2 separate regions of the Homo sapiens genome follow, and region 1 is linked to region 2. The links come from fine-mapping of genetic effects on gene expression. A gene starts in region 2. The other region holds a variant in brackets. All regions are shown on one strand. Distances are from middle to middle. Region 1 holds the start of CCR1 (C-C motif chemokine receptor 1). Region 2 holds the start of CCRL2 (C-C motif chemokine receptor like 2).

Region 1 (8,000 bases), 200 kb before region 2:
GATGACACCAAAAGTGACGGTCCGTGCCCGCAAGGCAAACACGGCGTGGACGATGGCCAGGTACCTGTCAATCGTCAGCAGGATGATGAAAAAGATCTCGCTGTACAAGCCTGTGTAATAAAACCCAGAGAGGATCTTACACATGGCATCACCAAAAACCCAGTCATCCTTCAACTTGTAGTCGATCCAGAAGGGAAGCGTGAACAGGAAGAGCAGGTCAGAAATGGCCAGGTTCAGGAGGTAGATGCTGGTCATGTTTTTTAGCCTCTTGTATTGCACAAGGACCAGGACCACCAGGATGTTTCCAACCAGGCCAATGACAAATACCAAGGAGTACAGAGGGGGCAGCAGTTGGGCCCCAAAGGCCCTCTCGTTCACCTTCTGGCACGGAGTTGCATCCCCATAGTCAAACTCTGTGGTCGTGTCATAGTCCTCTGTGGTGTTTGGAGTTTCCATCCCGGCTTCTCCTACAGGTTAAAAAAAAAAAAAAGATTTGTCTTTACTCTGCTACTAAAGGCAGTGGGCACTGGACAGTAAAGACAAGGGAGAGGTAACATTTTTTCAGCCACTCCATAAATGTTTATTGAGTGCCTTCTGTGTACCATGCCCTGGGGACAAAATGGAGTGTTAGAGAGACCCAGATCCTCTCTGCCTTCTAGGAATCTTAGTCTAACAGGGAGTGGAAGCAATAAGTAAATGAGTGCACAAATCATTAATTCAATCATTTCAGCAAAGAGTTTTGTAAGGGATAAGTTCAATGGGTGGAAAGCCAGAGGGAGACCTTACCATACTATTCATAACCAACACTTCCTAAGCACCCCCATGGCCTAGGCACTGGACTTAGGGTTAAAGAGCCCTGGAGGGGTCCCATTGTTGTTCTTATTTAAGAGGTGATGAAACAGAGGTTCAGAGTGGTTAGGAAACATGTTCAAGGACACACCTCTTGTGAGAACAGACCTGGAGCTCCAACCCAGCTGTGCATCATTCTCATGCCCGGCCCTGACACCACTACGCTTTCCTGCTGCTGTCCCCGAGCAGTAGCTTTGCACTGTGGAGCCCACAGGAGGACTCTGAGAAGGAAAATGGTCCTGGCTCAGAGAAAGATACAAACAGATATTCATGGCTTTTGGTCTAAGAAGATTCTCAGCCGAGAGTGACCTAGTACCCTTGGGGCACTTGGAAATGTGTGGGCATTTGTTGTTGTTGTCACCAAAACTGGGGGATGCTACCGTCATTTGGTAGGCAGGGCCAAGGATGTCCTACAGTGCAGAGATCATTCTACCCCAAACACCAGTGGTGTTGCCATAGTGAAATCCTAGTAGGTCAACCCCATTATTTTGGAGATGAGGACACTGAGGGCACCAGAGTGGGCTGAGCCTGACCCACATTGCACAGTCCTTAGGTGGCACAGGTAGATCTAAGGTCACTTTGCAGACCTCCTGAAGGAGAGGAAAGTGCAGGCAGAGAAGGGGGAGGTAACCTGGTCAGAAAAAGAGAAAACTGGGCATCAGGGGAGGAAGAGTTCAGAATGGTCTGGAGCTATGAGGTGATGTTACACAGTGACTAGCTGAATTCTGCTGAGATAAGCTCTTAGATATTTTTACCCACGGATGCCTTAAAGCAAACAAAAATGAAACAAAAAAGAATCACTCTGTAGGTTGCCTTTGTAGGACTTCTCCCAGTCCCTGCTTTTTTGGCACTTGAATCCTTTCCAGTTGCTTATTAAAGATGCCTCCCCAAATGGAGCATTGGCTTTGGTGTAACCTACGAGCTTTGTGACTTTGGATAAATTATTTTACCTCTCTGAGCTTCATTCCTCATCTGTAATGTGGGAAAGCAACTCTTATCTTGCAAGGCTACTGTGAGGTAATGTATGAGAAAAGTGCTACCATCACCCTCCCACCACCACCACCTGGCAACAGCCAGGCCCCTTATTGAGGGCCTGGCAAGAGCCAGGCCAGGGCACTTTTCTTGGGGACCTTCCCTGAGAGAACTCCTTCACTGCAGGAGCCCTTCCCTGAGGCCTGACACCACCAGCACATCCCAGGCACCAATGTCCAGGATGTCCCTGGCTGGCTGGTATACCCTGTCTCCCACCCCCCTGCCAAATTTCTTTGTAGTTAATCTAGAAAGTGATTTTTCTTGATAACGGTGGACAATGATGGTCCCTTCCATGTGAATGACATTTGAAATTGTCAATCTATTGCCGCCAATCTAAATTGATTTGACCCAAATGCCAATCAGTAAAGTAGGTGGCACCTACTTTATAATTTCTATCTTAAACCTGGGTCTCTGGTGTTCTTCCTTCTACTCTCCTTAAGGAATGTTTCCTGCTTACACAATTCACATTTTTTTCAATAGCCATTGTAAAGGAAATTAAGGCACATGGAGGGTATAGGGCACCCTGGCTGGAAAGGGAGATACTCTATTAGGGTGAGAAGTGAGGAGCTTTAATTTTTTATCAAACCCATCCCCTGGCCCACTCCTCCATCTCCAGAGAGATCCAATCAGCCCTCTTTCTGGAGAGAGTCAGGCTAACGGTCACTAACAAAGCTGTGTTGGCAGTTTCTAATTTCTGCAGCCACAGCCATTGCTGATGAGGGCAGACAGTTCGGTTTGATAGTCAGCACTTTTCGGTGGGCTGGCAGGTTAACAGTGGAAGTATGCAAATAGCTTGGAAAGCACAAAGAGCAGCTAGTGCAAGCCTGATCCCATGAGTCCAGTTTCTGGGAAGGTTTGGCAAAGGCAAAGGCAAGTTGAGTCAACATTGTCAGGTGGCATTTTAAACCGAGTCACCTCCATACACCCCCTACCTCCAACCCATTTGTTATTTCCCCAACTTGTTAAGCCCCAGGCAACCACTCCAAGGCATGCTGTTCCTAAAGGGAGGTGATCTGGGGTGGGGCCCGAGAAGAGAAACCAAAGGACCATGTTGTCATCTAATCTGCCAGCCCTGCTGTAGTCTACTGCAGAAGTCTGCCTCAAGGCCACTGCACAGTGGTCAGCTATAGCCCTGGATCCTGGACCCTCCACTGCTAGTGTCCTCCAGCCTGGGAGTTGGTGAAGTCTCTGAGCAGAGATAGAGCAGTCTGTGATGGTGAAAGACACCCAGGCCTATGGTGCGCTGGCTGGCTTATACTGGTTTATAAATGCCAATTGCGTGCATCTCTTCCCCACTCCACATTCAGCATGTTGGTAGCTTGAAACTGACCACAGTGGGGGCATTTATACCATGAAAATCAACAAATGTTATAAAGCAGGGATCTTTTCTTCAGAAGAGTCAGTTGTTGAACATTTACCAGCACATCACTGCCCAGGCCCCACATTCTGAACAGTCCAGCACTGTCCCACTGCTCGGTGCGGGAACTAAAGGATCAGTGAGTGGCACATAGCCTGGTGCCAGGTTGTGCAAACTTTTGGGAGTTTCCATCTCTTCTTTGAAATCTGGGACCCACCAAGACCACCTATGAAGTAGATACCTATACGGAGCCACCATGCCCCTCTATCTTCAGAACAAAATCCTGACCTGTGTCTTTGTTAGTAGAGCAGAACAGATGCCCCCCAAGATCACCTGGCCAGCTCCTTGCCTTTGGGTGAGTGAAAGCCTACCTCTTCCAAAGATAGCAGTGCCAATTTTGAGGATCCTTGGTTCTAGTCTTCTTAAGAGATAGGTTCAGTATCAAATCATCCTTGCATCTGCCAAGATTTTTCTAGCTAATATTTCCCTCTTGCTATAATTTCTTCATACACCATGTTTGGTTTTCCTTTACATGGGGGAATTTGGCAAGCAATTTTTTTTTTTTTTTCAGACAGACTCTTGCTCTGTCGCCAGGCTGGAGTGTAGTGGTGCAATCTCAGCTCACTGCAACCTCCACCTCCCGGATTCGAGTGATTCTCCTGCCTCAGCCTCTTGAGTAGCTGGGACTACAGGCATGCGCCACCATGCCCGGCTAATTTTTATTTTTAGTAGAGACAGGGTTTCACCATATGGCCAGGATTGTCTCCATCTCTTGACCTCATGATCCACCTGCCTCGGTCTCCCAAAGTGCTGGGATTACAGCCGTGAGCCACTGCGCCCCGCCAAGTAATTTCTTATTGAATAGGTTTCCACAGAAAACACCTTTTGTCCCTTAGTACTGACTGACTTTCTTAATCAGTAACCAAAAGCCAATCCTTCAAGTAAGCTTCCTTTTTAGCAAAAAAGCCTATATTTCATCTGAGCACCCAGCTTTATAAATCCACCATTCTCAGTATTGCTACAGTATTAATTGCCTTGGAGATGCATCCATGGGCTACTTAGACATTTGCCCAGCCTACTCAAAGAATTCCCCCTACCTTTGAGGAGCCCCTAGCTGCATGCATGTCTTTGAACAACACTGCCCTCCACAGTAACAGATAAGACAGAAAAGACAAGTGACACTTACTCTGGTTCCAAGGGACTTTGTCCGTGAAGTCTTTGTTTCTGGGGCTTTCTGGGTTTTTATGAATTCAAGTTTCAAGATCCTGACCAAGTAGGAAGTACTCAGCTTCCTGTGTGATGATGGAGAATTGGCTCCAGTTTCACAGTCTTTCAAAATGACAAGAAAGGGACAAA[GTTC/G]TTCTTTTTGTGTGGTTTGGTGCTCATGAATGGCCACAACGCCCACCAGTGGCCACTTCCTGGAAGCCAAGTTAACTGCGAGGATTTTCTCTGCTCACTCTGAGCCTCTTGAGTCTTGGCCCTGGGAGCTCAGCCTTAAGGGAATTGGGGGCAGGTGAAGCTGAGTTGGGTGAGGTGGGTGGCAGTGAGATGTTCCCAGAATGTTTGGAGCAATTGAAGTGTGGGATGTGTGTATGTGGGATGGGGGCAGGGCATAGAGCTCTTGTGGTCAGCGGCAGACTTCTTTTTTTTCTTCTTCTTAAAGATTGTGAATGGAAGGATTTAAACTGGAACCCTGAGTCCTGTTCCTCAAAACTAACTGACATGGGTGCTCACAGAGGCAGCAGCTTCTCTTTGGCACCCTATGCCCCTCGGCTTCTGGGAGCTCATTGTCCCTCTGCTCTCTGCTCCCCAAGTCCCTCCCCACCAAACCTCAGAGAGTGGCTTTGCCCCAGGAACCTCCAGCATGAAGGGAATATAGGTCTGTTGGTTACATTTTGACCTTCCCTTTCTGATGCCCCATTCCTGTTTTACGTGATGGTCAAACATGGGCCAAGTTCAAATCCCAGCTCTCCACCTGTGACATGGGCAGATCACTCACCTTTCTAAGTCTTGGTTCCTACTCTGCTAAATGGGAGTATTGAATGCTTACCTCAGAGGAGAAGCACGAAGTCAACTTGTACATGAAAAATGTCAGAGTGCCTGGCACAGTGAAAAATGTCTGACAAATGATGAGTACTGTGACTCTCCTCACAACTGCCAACACCTACTCTGCCTCTGCCCTTGTGTCTTCTATAAAGTGGGGACACCCCTAACCTTCCTCACGGCATTGCTACAAAGCACTGTTTCAGAAATCATCAGTGTGAATGTGCTTTGAAAAGATCACTTGTCTCTTCATGGTTCAGTTTTCTTATCTGTAAAATGAAGAATTCAGACAAGATGGCCTAAGCTTGACATCTGATCATCACTCAGCTTCACCCCAAAGAAATAAATGGGGGTCTGCATGTGCCTGGCTATTTGCAGTACTTTGCTGGTGGATCAGTTTCCAAAGAGAACAGAGGCTTGTGAGGCCTGCCTTTTCCTTGATCCTGTCTAAAGTAAGGGACATGGTCAGTACCTCATCCTTGACCAGGCTTCCAGCTCTGCTCTAGGTTTCATTCCACAGAGGGGATGTACCAGGCAAATCTGCTTGTTCATTGAACAAATATTTATTCAGTACTCACAATGTGCCGGACATTGTGTTAGGTGCTTGGGATATAGTGGTGAAGAAAGAGGCTGGATCCATTCTTTGAGAGCTTATAGCTTAGGAAGGATCACAAACAATTAACCAAGTTACCACAATGAGGAACAGCTTTTGTAGTGGCCTGGGAAATACCCTGGGCTAAGGAAGGGTGCATCGAGGGTGGGAAGGGGTGAGGAAGTCCTTTAGAGCAGTGGTTCTCAAAGTGAGGTCCCTGGACCAGCAGCATTCACATTCCCTGGGACATTGCTAGCCATGCAAGTTCTGGGGTTACATGCCAGATATACTGACTCAGAAATCCTGGGGATGCGGCCAAGCAATCCAGGTTTTGACAAAGACTGGCATGATTCTGATGCATGCTTAAATTTGGGGGGCATGGATCTAGATTTTCTCAATGCTTTTGGCTCAGAGTCCCATGTGATCTTTCTTCAGAAGAGTTAGGCTGGACCAGCTATGAGCTAGGAAGCCTTCTTTCTCTCTTTAGCTCAAGGCCTAAACAAGAGGCTGCTCAGTTGCCTGCTCTGTCTCCCCTCCCACACCCACACTCAGGTCTCCTATGGCCTTGCAAACCCCTTAGTGCACACACCCCTCTCACCACAGCAGATGTGTACAATGGGGGCAGCACAGAGAGACAAGAGAGAAACCAGCAAAGAGGGATGACCTTGCTCCATTCATTTCTCTTAAAAGCCCTTTGACTCCTCTCCTTAAAAGCTGTAGTGTTCTCTCAAGGTTGCCGTATTGTCCTTGATCCACATCAATGTTCCTCTTCCTTGGAGAGAAGGGGGAGATGTGGGCAGCTTCCTTTGCCCCAGAGAGGTTGCAGTGGAAGCCCAGCACTAAGCCAAACCCTGTCCTGAGACAGCCTTCCACCCCAGCCTTGGCACCAATGTTCAGGGAAGAGATGCAGGGGACCCTGCCAGTGGTGGATGTGGATGACTCTGTCTTTAACACCTGCAGAGCTCATGGACCCTGGCCGTCATCAGGTTCAACCTCATATTCAACTGCTGGGCCTTGTCTTCTGGCCACACACTCTCTCCAAATCAGCGATGGTGGGGAACTGAGGAGCCAGAGGCCATTGTGGAAGAACTCCAAGAAAACAATCTCCAGGTTATCACATCTAAAGCCTGAGCAAGATTTGAGGCTGGGAAGAGGTGGATCCCAGAATTGGAAGAAGGTAGGTGAAACCAGTGTTGCCTCCGCTATGTTAGAGTCACATGGAAGCTTGAAGGACAATTGACTCCTAGGCCCACCCCCAGATATTCTGATGTACTTGGTCTAGGGTGCAGCCTGGGCATTGGAATTTTAATATGTTAAAAAATCTGAGAACTAGAATCCCTGGCCTAAAGCAATGGTTCTCGAATTTGAATATCCATCAGAATCTACAGAGGGCTTGTTAAAACAGATTTCTGGACTTATCTCCAGAGATTAAGTTCAGTAGGTCTGGAATGGGGCCTGAGAATTTACTTTTTTTTTTTTTTTTTTTTAGACAAGGTCTTGCTCTGTCGCCCAGGCTGGGGTGCAGTAGCATGATCATGGCTCACTGCAGCCTCAACCTTCTGGGCTCAAGTGATCCTCCCACTTCAGTCTCCTAAGTAGCTGGAACCACAGGTGCATGGCACCACACCTGGCTAATTTGAAAAAATATGTATATATATATATATATATTTTTTGTAGAAATGGGTGTGTTATCATGTTGCCTAGGTTGGTCTCAAACTCATGGGCTCTAGTGACCCTCTTGCCCCAGCCTCCCAAAGTGCTGGGATTACAGGTGTGACCTGTGATCCCACCATGCCTGACCTAGATTTGCATTTCTAATAAGTTTCGAGAACCACTGGTCTACAGGAATTCTCTGAGATGTAATTTGTTTATATTTGTAAGTACACAAAATATAAGGTGAAGAGCTAAGTTTGCCTACCCCTGGCGCCTTATTTTCCCCATTTCTCTTCCCAAAAGGAACAACAGTATCAGATTCTCATGTCACTTTGAACATAGAACACACGCACACACACACTTTTTTTTACACTGGTGAGTGAATACAATACACGTTGTCTTCCATTGCTTTTGTCACTGAACCTCATACCCAGAAGATTCTTCTCCACCAGCAAGCACCTGGGAATAAGCATG
Region 2 (9,664 bases):
GAAATATTATCTGCCCTCCCAGGTATCACAGCTACTAATTATTGGGTACTGAGGTGGAATTTTAGGGATCAGCCAATTATGGGAAAGAAAATCTGGGGGCAGGATAAGATGGTCTCCGAAGCCTTAAAATTATATGCCATTATTTACCTCTTTGATCTACTACTCAATATCAAACAACTAATTCAGAAGAAAATTGATTGTTTTCTAAAAGTAGTTTTTCTACATTTCCCATTAAGAAGCAGTGGTATTTAAAACTTATAATGGCTATTATGTGAGATTATCACTATCATAGTTTTTCTCTATACAAATTTTCTGTAACATTTTATTTGCTAATAAAAATTAGATAGATGGATTGACTAATTGATAATCTAAGAAAGATTATATTTGAAGAAGCCATAGTAAGGGACAGATTAAATTATCATCAGTCTAAACATTCTAATACCTATTTCTCTTTTTTTGAAATTTTCCAAATTTGTTATTATGCATTTAAACAATAATTTTTTGAACTTTTATTTTAGGTTCTGGGGTACATGTGAAAGCTTGTTACGTAGGTAACCTTTTGTCATGAGGGTTTGTTGTACAAATTATTTCATCACTCAGCTATCAAGCCCAGTACTCAATAGGTATCTTTTCTGCTCCTCTCCCTCCTCCCGCCCTCCAGTCTCAAGTAGACCCCGGTGTCTGTTGTTCCCTTCTTTGAGTTCATGTGTTCTCATCATTTAGCTCCCACTTATAAGTGAGAATACAAGGTATTTGGTTTTCTGTTCCTGTGTTAGTTTGCTAAGGGTAATAGCCTCCAGCTCCATTCGTGTTTCCACAAAAAAACATGATCTCGTTCTTTTCATGGCTGCATAGTATTCCATGGTGTATATGTACCACACTTTCTTTATCTAATCTGTCATTGATGGGCATTTAGGTTTATTCCATGTCTTTGCTACTGTGAATAGTGCTGCAATGAACATTCACATGCGTGTGTCTTCATGGTAGAATGATTTATATTCCTCTGGGTGTATACCCAGTAATGGGATTTCTGTTTTTAGCTCTTTGATCTAATACCTATTTCTCAAGATCAAGTTAGATCTCTAAAAAAGGCATCATCCTAGCATTTCCCCATCCCTTCCCTGAACTAAATTTAATGTTGTGTGTATCAATCAGCATACAGTCAAGACAGAAACCACACATGAACATTAAATATAATGAGTTATTAACTTATAAAAGGGTATGAACTACTAAAGGGGGTAAGGAGAATGCTGAAGAATGCAGGAATGGCAGATGTAGAGAGCAGCCATAACCTCTAAGCTAAGGCACAGCAGCCAAGGAAGGGGCGAACTCAAAAAATGCCCTCCCTCCCCAGCTGATCCACCCTTGTTGGAGGGGGTGTGGCTGCAACCCAATGGATGCCCAAGAAGTTTGCAGAGTTGTGGCAGGTTGGGGCTGCTGAGCAGGAAACTGCCCGAAGGGGTACCAGTGAGATTCCCAAGAATGTGGGCATGCCTCTGGCGAGGAAGACGCTCTTGGAGTGCCAGCAAAATTTACTAGGAAGCTACCCAGTAGGGTGCCAGCAAAAGTCAGCAGGAAGCCACTGTCGTGGTGTCGGCAAAATTCACTGAGGAGTGGGCACTGCAGGGTCTCCACCCAGCACTGGCAAATCAGCCAAAAGAACAAAAACAAAATAAAAACAAATCCCAGAACCAGAAAGAAAAAACTCTGCCTCTTACTGCGACCCTCTTATGCCTTCTACAGCAACTGGCAAAGGAGAAATGTTTATGGGGTCCAGCTCTAGACTCACAAAGCAGAACACAGAAGAGTGAATGAAGAGCTGAAAGGCGATAAATCAGTAACTGGAGCCTCACATCCTTTGCCTTTTTTATTGAGGGTCAATATATTAAGAAGAATATGTCTGCGTCTTCGGTAAAATTATTGCTAAGGTTATCACCCAGTGTGTGTTTTCAACCTCCCTGATATAAGAACTTAGTGACAAGAAAGAATGAGACAATGATCATGAACTATTGGACCCAACCATTTGTGGCTTTAGTGCCCATCTTCTCAGCAAGGCTTTCTCTCTCTCTCTCTCTCTCTCTCTCTCTCTTTTTTTTTTTTTTTTTTTTTTTTTAAGATGGAGTCTCACTCTGTCACCCAGGCCGGAGTGCAGTGGCACAATCTTGGCTCACGGCAACCTCCACCTCCTGGGTTCGAGTGATTCTCCTGCTTCAGCCTCCCGAGTAGCTGGGATTACGGGCACCCATCGCCACCCCTCCTGGCTAATTTTTGTATTTTTAGTAGAGATGAAGTTTTGCCATGTCGGCCAGGCTGTTCTCAAACTCCTGACCTCAAGTGATCCACCCACCTCAGCCTCCCAAAGTGCTGGGATTACAGGCATGAGCCACCACAGCCAGCTCTCAGCAAGGCTTTTTCTGACTACACTATTTAAAATGTGATCCCTGAGCCACCTTGGCCTCTCTTGCTGTCCTTCCCTGCTTCGCCTTCTCCATAGCACTTCTCTCCTACTAATCTACAATTTACTTGAGCTCTGTGAAGGTCAGGATTTTTGCCTATTTTGTCCATTGGTGCATCCCCAGCACCTGGAACAGAGCTAGGCACAGGCTAGGCACTCTAGAAATACTTGCTGAATAATTGAATTAAGTAAATGAGTGATCTACACGTAGTGGGGAATGAGAGTATACAGTGATAGTTCCTTCGACTAAAACTGGGGTCAAATTATAGTGATAAAGAGGAACTCAGACCTTCAGAGGTAAGCTTTGTGGACCACTTGCCAAGGCTGCAGAATGTGATGTCGTTTCACAAACAAGGAGGCCCTATTATGGCTTCAGATATGAGAATAATAAAGAGAACTTTCCTTTCGCCTCAACTGCAGCCTTCTAAACTCTTCCTTCCTTCCTATGTAGAAGTTTCAAGGACCTCATGGCCTGAGTGTGGATAGGCAGAATGCTGGGAATCAGGCAAAAATAAAATAATACTGAAAGTGAAGGTCATGCTAATATTAGTAAGCCAGGGTGATCCTGAATTTACAAAACATTTTTCTTTGGGAAATTTCACACCTCACATGATTCTGTGTTTTTACTTGGGAAATTTCACATCTCACATGACTCTGTGACATGCGGTACATGAGGTGCCTGACTGCTGTTTTTGTCCTCTACTAATGAGGAAGAGTGTGCGTACTCCCAGCGTTTTGCAAGTTTCAAAGTCTGACTTGACTTTCCTTCCTTTTCCTGGAACTGATCCATGAGTATCGAGAGTAAAGCTGCCCGCACCTACTCATTCAAGATCCTGAGTGTCCTGCCCAGCTGCAGGAGGTGGAGAGACCCAGGAGGAGGGGCCACTGCTGATCCCAGGCTGTAGGGGGTGGGAAGAGTGTCCCAGGGCACCATGACCCCCACTCACTCACTCACAGGAGACCCACACAAGAGAGGAGAGGGCACTTACAGCTTAGGTTCCCACCAGCACCAACTCCTCTGCCATCAAACATCATTGTGTTTCTCTTTCTGCCTTGTCTGTCGGCACACGTGGAGTTAAATTTAATGCTCAATCACATATTTGTCTGGGCTCTTTCTGTGTTTATTTTTCTCTTAATAGTTCTCTCTCCTCCCTTCCTCTCCCCGCCCCTCCTCCTCCTTCTTCTTTTTTTTTTCCAGAGACAGTGTCTCGCTCTGCCACCCAGGCCAGAGTGCAGAGTGGCATGATCATGGCTCACCGCAGCCTCCAACTCCTGGGCTCACGTGAACATCCCACCTTGGCCTCTGGAATGTCTGGGATTACAGGCACTTGCCACTGCATCTGGCTAATTTTTATATTGTTTATAGATCCGGGATCTCACTATGTTGCCCAGGCTGGCCTCAAACTCCTGGGCTCAAGCGACCCTCCCACCTCATACTTCTGAGTAGCTGGGGCTGTAGGAATGCGCCTCAGTGCCAGGCTAGTTTCTTAATTTTCTATTTCTATTTTGACAGGTACAAATTTTGTATTCAATCCTACCTCAGACACATCTTTGGTGGGAAAAGGATGTCATTTAATCAATATATAAATTCTAAGCAAATAGGTCTGATCCCCAAATTAGGTTAGTCACAGCTGCTGAGTCGTTGACCCAAGAGAAGCTCATCTAGATTTTTTCATTATTTTCAAGTTCCTCTTCTCGGTTCGTCCTTCTTCCAGACCGTGCCCTCCCCGTCCCACTCTCTTCCCACAGCCTCCCCTCCCCACAGCCTCCTCCCACCATTCCAAATCTGGGCTGTTCTCTCAATTTCCTTCTCTCTGGACTCAAACCTACCCTAGCCCCCAGCCTCAGTTTGGGGTTAAACTTGTCCTCCTCACATTCTCTCCCACCCAACTTGATGTCGCCTCTGTGTCATCACCACGGGATTTTCCTCCTCTGGGTTCTCCTTTTCCGAGTGGGGTCAGCTCCCCCATGAGTCACAGCACCAATCACTTCTGGCTGCTTGCAAACCCCTTTGCTTTCCTCAGTGTTGACACCCAGGGCAGCCCTATGCTCACTGCCGCTGAGACCCCACCTCTGCCCCTGGCCTTTTCCCAGCTGACATCACCCTGTGGCTTCCATTTTCCTAAAATTCTCTTTTGAGGCCTCAGTCTTAACCAAAGCACACAGTGCCCCTCAAAAATGACAATAAAAACCCAAACACACCGTGACTGTCATGGCAGGTTCCTGGTCCCCGTATTGAATCAGCGGGTGGGTTTCTGCGAACACTGGTGAGAGGCCGCATTAGAGGGTCAGGACCCTCAGGTCTGGACTCGTGGTCACCACATACCTTCCTCCCTGCTGACAGTAGCTGGTACCTGTTACCTACTCAGAGTGTCACATGCCACAAGCCAGAGCGTCTTGGCAGTTCTCAGCACCTTGACATCACTTCCTTGCTACCACTCAGAGCGGCAGTGACACAGTTCCCTTATCTCAGAAGGCCAGAAGACGGCTGTCAAAGGTCACAGGGAAATCAAAGGCGGGGTACAGGGCCAGAGGGAGGAGGAAACAACTTCCCGGTTGCTTTCAGACGCTTCAGAGATCCTCTGGAGGCCTGGGGGAGCTTTTGAGTACTTTATTTCAGTTGGTCCCTGAGCTCGGTGAGTGGGGCGGGTAGAGCCACCAGGGGAATCAACAGTGGTTTCTCGTGCCCCTCAGGGTCAGGAGCAGTCTGATCAAAAGGAGGGCATCCACTGTCCGGGGCCATTCCCACAGCTCCCGGATGCTGGGTCTGGAGGCTGCGCCCTTCCCCTGCAGGAGCTCAGCCCAGTGGTAAGTCATCTGTGTGTCATCTATGTATTTAACCCCTTATGGCCATGTTGATGCTGAGCATGGTTTCACTTTTGCAAACATTTATTTATACCCTTCGAGAGAAAAACGTCTCAGCTGTCACAGGAAGCTGCTTCGGGGGGTGAGCAAACTTTTTAAAATGCAGAAATTATGATCTACACCCGTTTCTTAAAAGTAAGCCATCGTACTTGGTTCTCTTTAATTATATATTTTCTTACATATTGTGTTCATGTAGGCAAGTCCTGTTTCTGCTAAAAGAAGGTAAGTTCTACCAAGGCGGTGTCATGCCAGCTTTATTTCCCGTGGCACCTGGCACACTGCTAAGCACTTACATGCTTAACAACTAGATTGGGAATGGTGCTGCTCTGGGGAAGTGGGCACACGTTAAAGAAATGTTTATTTCAGTCTTCTGAAATAGGGAATTACTCTGGCTAAAATGTAGCTCCAGAAAGGGAAAGTGGGGCTGTATGAATCCAGGTCCAGTTTGTTGTTTCCTCCAGGATAAGGCAGCTGTCGGAGGGGAAAATCATCTCCCATTTCTCCACAGGGCAGTCTGAAGATGGCCAATTACACGCTGGCACCAGAGGATGAATATGATGTCCTCATAGAAGGTGAACTGGAGAGCGATGAGGCAGAGCAATGTGACAAGTATGACGCCCAGGCACTCTCAGCCCAGCTGGTGCCATCACTCTGCTCTGCTGTGTTTGTGATCGGTGTCCTGGACAATCTCCTGGTTGTGCTTATCCTGGTAAAATATAAAGGACTCAAACGCGTGGAAAATATCTATCTTCTAAACTTGGCAGTTTCTAACTTGTGTTTCTTGCTTACCCTGCCCTTCTGGGCTCATGCTGGGGGCGATCCCATGTGTAAAATTCTCATTGGACTGTACTTCGTGGGCCTGTACAGTGAGACATTTTTCAATTGCCTTCTGACTGTGCAAAGGTACCTAGTGTTTTTGCACAAGGGAAACTTTTTCTCAGCCAGGAGGAGGGTGCCCTGTGGCATCATTACAAGTGTCCTGGCATGGGTAACAGCCATTCTGGCCACTTTGCCTGAATTCGTGGTTTATAAACCTCAGATGGAAGACCAGAAATACAAGTGTGCATTTAGCAGAACTCCCTTCCTGCCAGCTGATGAGACATTCTGGAAGCATTTTCTGACTTTAAAAATGAACATTTCGGTTCTTGTCCTCCCCCTATTTATTTTTACATTTCTCTATGTGCAAATGAGAAAAACACTAAGGTTCAGGGAGCAGAGGTATAGCCTTTTCAAGCTTGTTTTTGCCATAATGGTAGTCTTCCTTCTGATGTGGGCGCCCTACAATATTGCATTTTTCCTGTCCACTTTCAAAGAACACTTCTCCCTGAGTGACTGCAAGAGCAGCTACAATCTGGACAAAAGTGTTCACATCACTAAACTCATCGCCACCACCCACTGCTGCATCAACCCTCTCCTGTATGCGTTTCTTGATGGGACATTTAGCAAATACCTCTGCCGCTGTTTCCATCTGCGTAGTAACACCCCACTTCAACCCAGGGGGCAGTCTGCACAAGGCACATCGAGGGAAGAACCTGACCATTCCACCGAAGTGTAAACTAGCATCCACCAAATGCAAGAAGAATAAACATGGATTTTCATCTTTCTGCATTATTTCATGTAAATTTTCTACACATTTGTATACAAAATCGGATACAGGAAGAAAAGGGAGAGGTGAGCTAACATTTGCTAAGCACTGAATTTGTCTCAGGCACCGTGCAAGGCTCTTTACAAACGTGAGCTCCTTCGCCTCCTACCACTTGTCCATAGTGTGGATAGGACTAGTCTCATTTCTCTGAGAAGAAAACTAAGGCGCGGAAATTTGTCTAAGATCACATAACTAGGAAGTGGCAGAACTGATTCTCCAGCCCTGGTAGCATTTGCTCAGAGCCTACGCTTGGTCCAGAACATCAAACTCCAAACCCTGGGGACAAACGACATGAAATAAATGTATTTTAAAACATCTATTTAATGTATTTTAAAATAATTTGTAAGTTGATTTTAAAACCAATTTAACTACATTCCAAATTATAGACAGCCCATTTATATGGGAGTAACTTTTCAGGCTCATTGCCTCGCCGGTGATGAGAAGAACTAGCTAGCTGGAAGCTGTGGGAAAAAGAGGTAAGGTAACTTGTTCTGTCGAAGTTCTCTAAATTCTCTTGCTTACTTGCCACACCCCTAGGCCCCCAGCTTCCCCTAACCCAAGGTTTCTGGTATTTTCTCGTACTTTATCAAGACTATGGAATCTTAGGAGACTTAACAAAAGCAAATGAGAAATTATGTTTAGAAATGTCTAACAAAATGAATGCTTTGTCCTTTTAAGTATAACACATACCTCAGGCCTCACCAGCACATAACTACAAAAGGTTGTCCCACTTCCTTTCTGTGGCTGAGTTAGTAGAACACAGGCTCCCACCTGCCACATCAGCAGAAGGTCACCTCAACATGTGAGCTACCTCCCCGGAGACCCCCCAGATCCGTAAGGATGATGCATCCTTGATCCTAAAAACATTTTCCTGTTCCTGGTGTTCAGAATTGGACTCCACACTCACTGGTCTCTTTATAATCTTGCTTCTGGCCCTTTGAGGCCTCAAAGCTACCAGGGCCTTGCTGCCAGGGGACAATCACCACTCCCGGCTGAGTCCTGCAGACATAGGGCCTGGGCTGGCTGCCTCCTCCTGCTGGCCCAGCATCTTGCTTGCACTAAAGAGAGCTGGAGGCTTGGCACTGATGCTTGCTAAAAACCTACCCAGGCCGCCCACTGCTGCCGCACTGCAGGGCACCAGCCCACACTCCTCCCCTCCTGGCATCAGGCACACGTTCACGGCACTAAACCTTACAGGAAAGCAGTGGAACCCTGTCTTTCCTTCACAGGAGGCACTTTCCTTCCTAGGCAAAAACGATGATACCCATGGGCACAGCATCTCACATAGGGACACATAGAGATGTCTGACTCATTAAAACCCAAGTCTCTGGCCAATTAAAAGGGGTCCTTAATGTCCTACTCAACAGTGGTGGAAGGAAATTTGCTCTATATTGATGAAATGAGGTGGAGAAAATCTGATTTTCCAAACATGAGAATTCTCCATATGCCACCCCATAACCAAAGACCCCTTATTTGTGTTAGATGAAACATTCAAAGAGCCTATTAGGATAGCGGATGAGACCCCCAAGGGACATGCTTATACAACAATAACTGGCTCCAAACCACACTCCATGGCAGTGGCTCTCAAATGCCAGCTCACATCACAAGCCCTGTGCTAAAACACAGAGTTCTGGGCCCCATCCCGGAGTTTGTGGTTCAGGAGGTCTGGAGTGTGACCTCAGAATATGCATTTCTAACAAATTCCCCAGGGGATGCAGATACTGCTGACCCAAGGCCCTCCTTCTGAGAACCACTGTTCCAGGGAGAAGAAACTCAGCTAAGTAAGGGTTTGGCTTTGTGCTGAAGACAATGTGGAATTTAGAGTTGGGGTGAATTATTCAGGAAAGTAGAGAGGTTTGGAGATGTGAGGGTGGGAAGCGCAGTGGAGGGAGGCAGAGAGGAAATATGAAGCAGCGTCAGTTGGAGAGAAATTAGGAAGAGGAATAAAATGATATATGCCAGGGATTTCAGTTTTGCTGAGCCCATGATGACAGACTCTTCTCTGGCACCTTATGCCACTCATTGAGGGCTTGTAGCTGGCTCTGCTCTTTCAGAGTCATAATAGGGCTATGGGTCTGACCTCAAGGTGAGCTGGAATGGGCACAAGTAATAGATAAAACTGCAAGAAGTCACTCAAGGGTCCTTCCTAGAACAAAGGATCCCTACATTCCAAAGGCGAATGCCGGTCACTATCATAAAAGAAAAGAAAGAAAGAAACTGATGGTGACATTTTAAATGGCAATTTTTCTAGCTTCTAAAAGGTTGTGGAGCAACTGGAACTTTCATACCCTGCTGGTGGGAATGTAAAATGGTATAATCACTTTGGAAAAATTGGCAGTGTCACCAAAAGCAAAGCCTATACCTACTATCCATTTCACTCCTCAGTATTTACCCAAGAGAAATGAGCATGTATGTCCATACAAAGATTTGGACCCAAATGTTCATGACAGCCTTATTTATATAGCCTCAAACTAGAAAAAGTCTGTCTATCAACAGGTGAATGGATAAACAAATACTGGCCTGTGTATCTAATGGAATACTGCTCATCCACAAAAAGAAACGAGCTATTGATACACACAGGAGCATGCACGAAATCTCAAAATGCTGAATGAAGGAGGCCAGATTTTAATTTTATTTTTAATTATTTATTTATTTATTTATTTTTGAGACAGAGTCTCGCTCTGTCACCCAGCCTGGAA

What was found. PIP is the estimated chance that this variant, and not a neighbour inherited with it, causes the effect.
Region 1: its variant is fine-mapped to the expression of CCRL2 in whole blood (TOPMed, PIP above 0.99).

Annotation. Positions count from the first base shown.
Region 1 is chr3:46,203,858-46,211,857 of GRCh38, forward strand. It overlaps CCR1 (C-C motif chemokine receptor 1), which reads right to left and starts at 4,456. Exons shown (of 2, transcript NM_001295.3): 1 at 4,425-4,456; 2 at 1-467. The coding sequence starts at 456. It also overlaps a transcript of CCR3 not described here. The variant GTTC/G (reference allele first, on the strand shown) is at 4,595.
Region 2 is chr3:46,402,240-46,411,903 of GRCh38, forward strand. CCRL2 (C-C motif chemokine receptor like 2) reads left to right here and starts at 5,020. Exons shown (of 2, transcript NM_003965.5): 1 at 5,020-5,263; 2 at 5,829-7,284. The coding sequence starts at 5,841. The coding sequence ends at 6,875. CCR5AS (CCR5 antisense RNA) reads right to left here and starts at 4,827. Exons shown (of 4, transcript NR_125406.2): 1 at 4,658-4,827.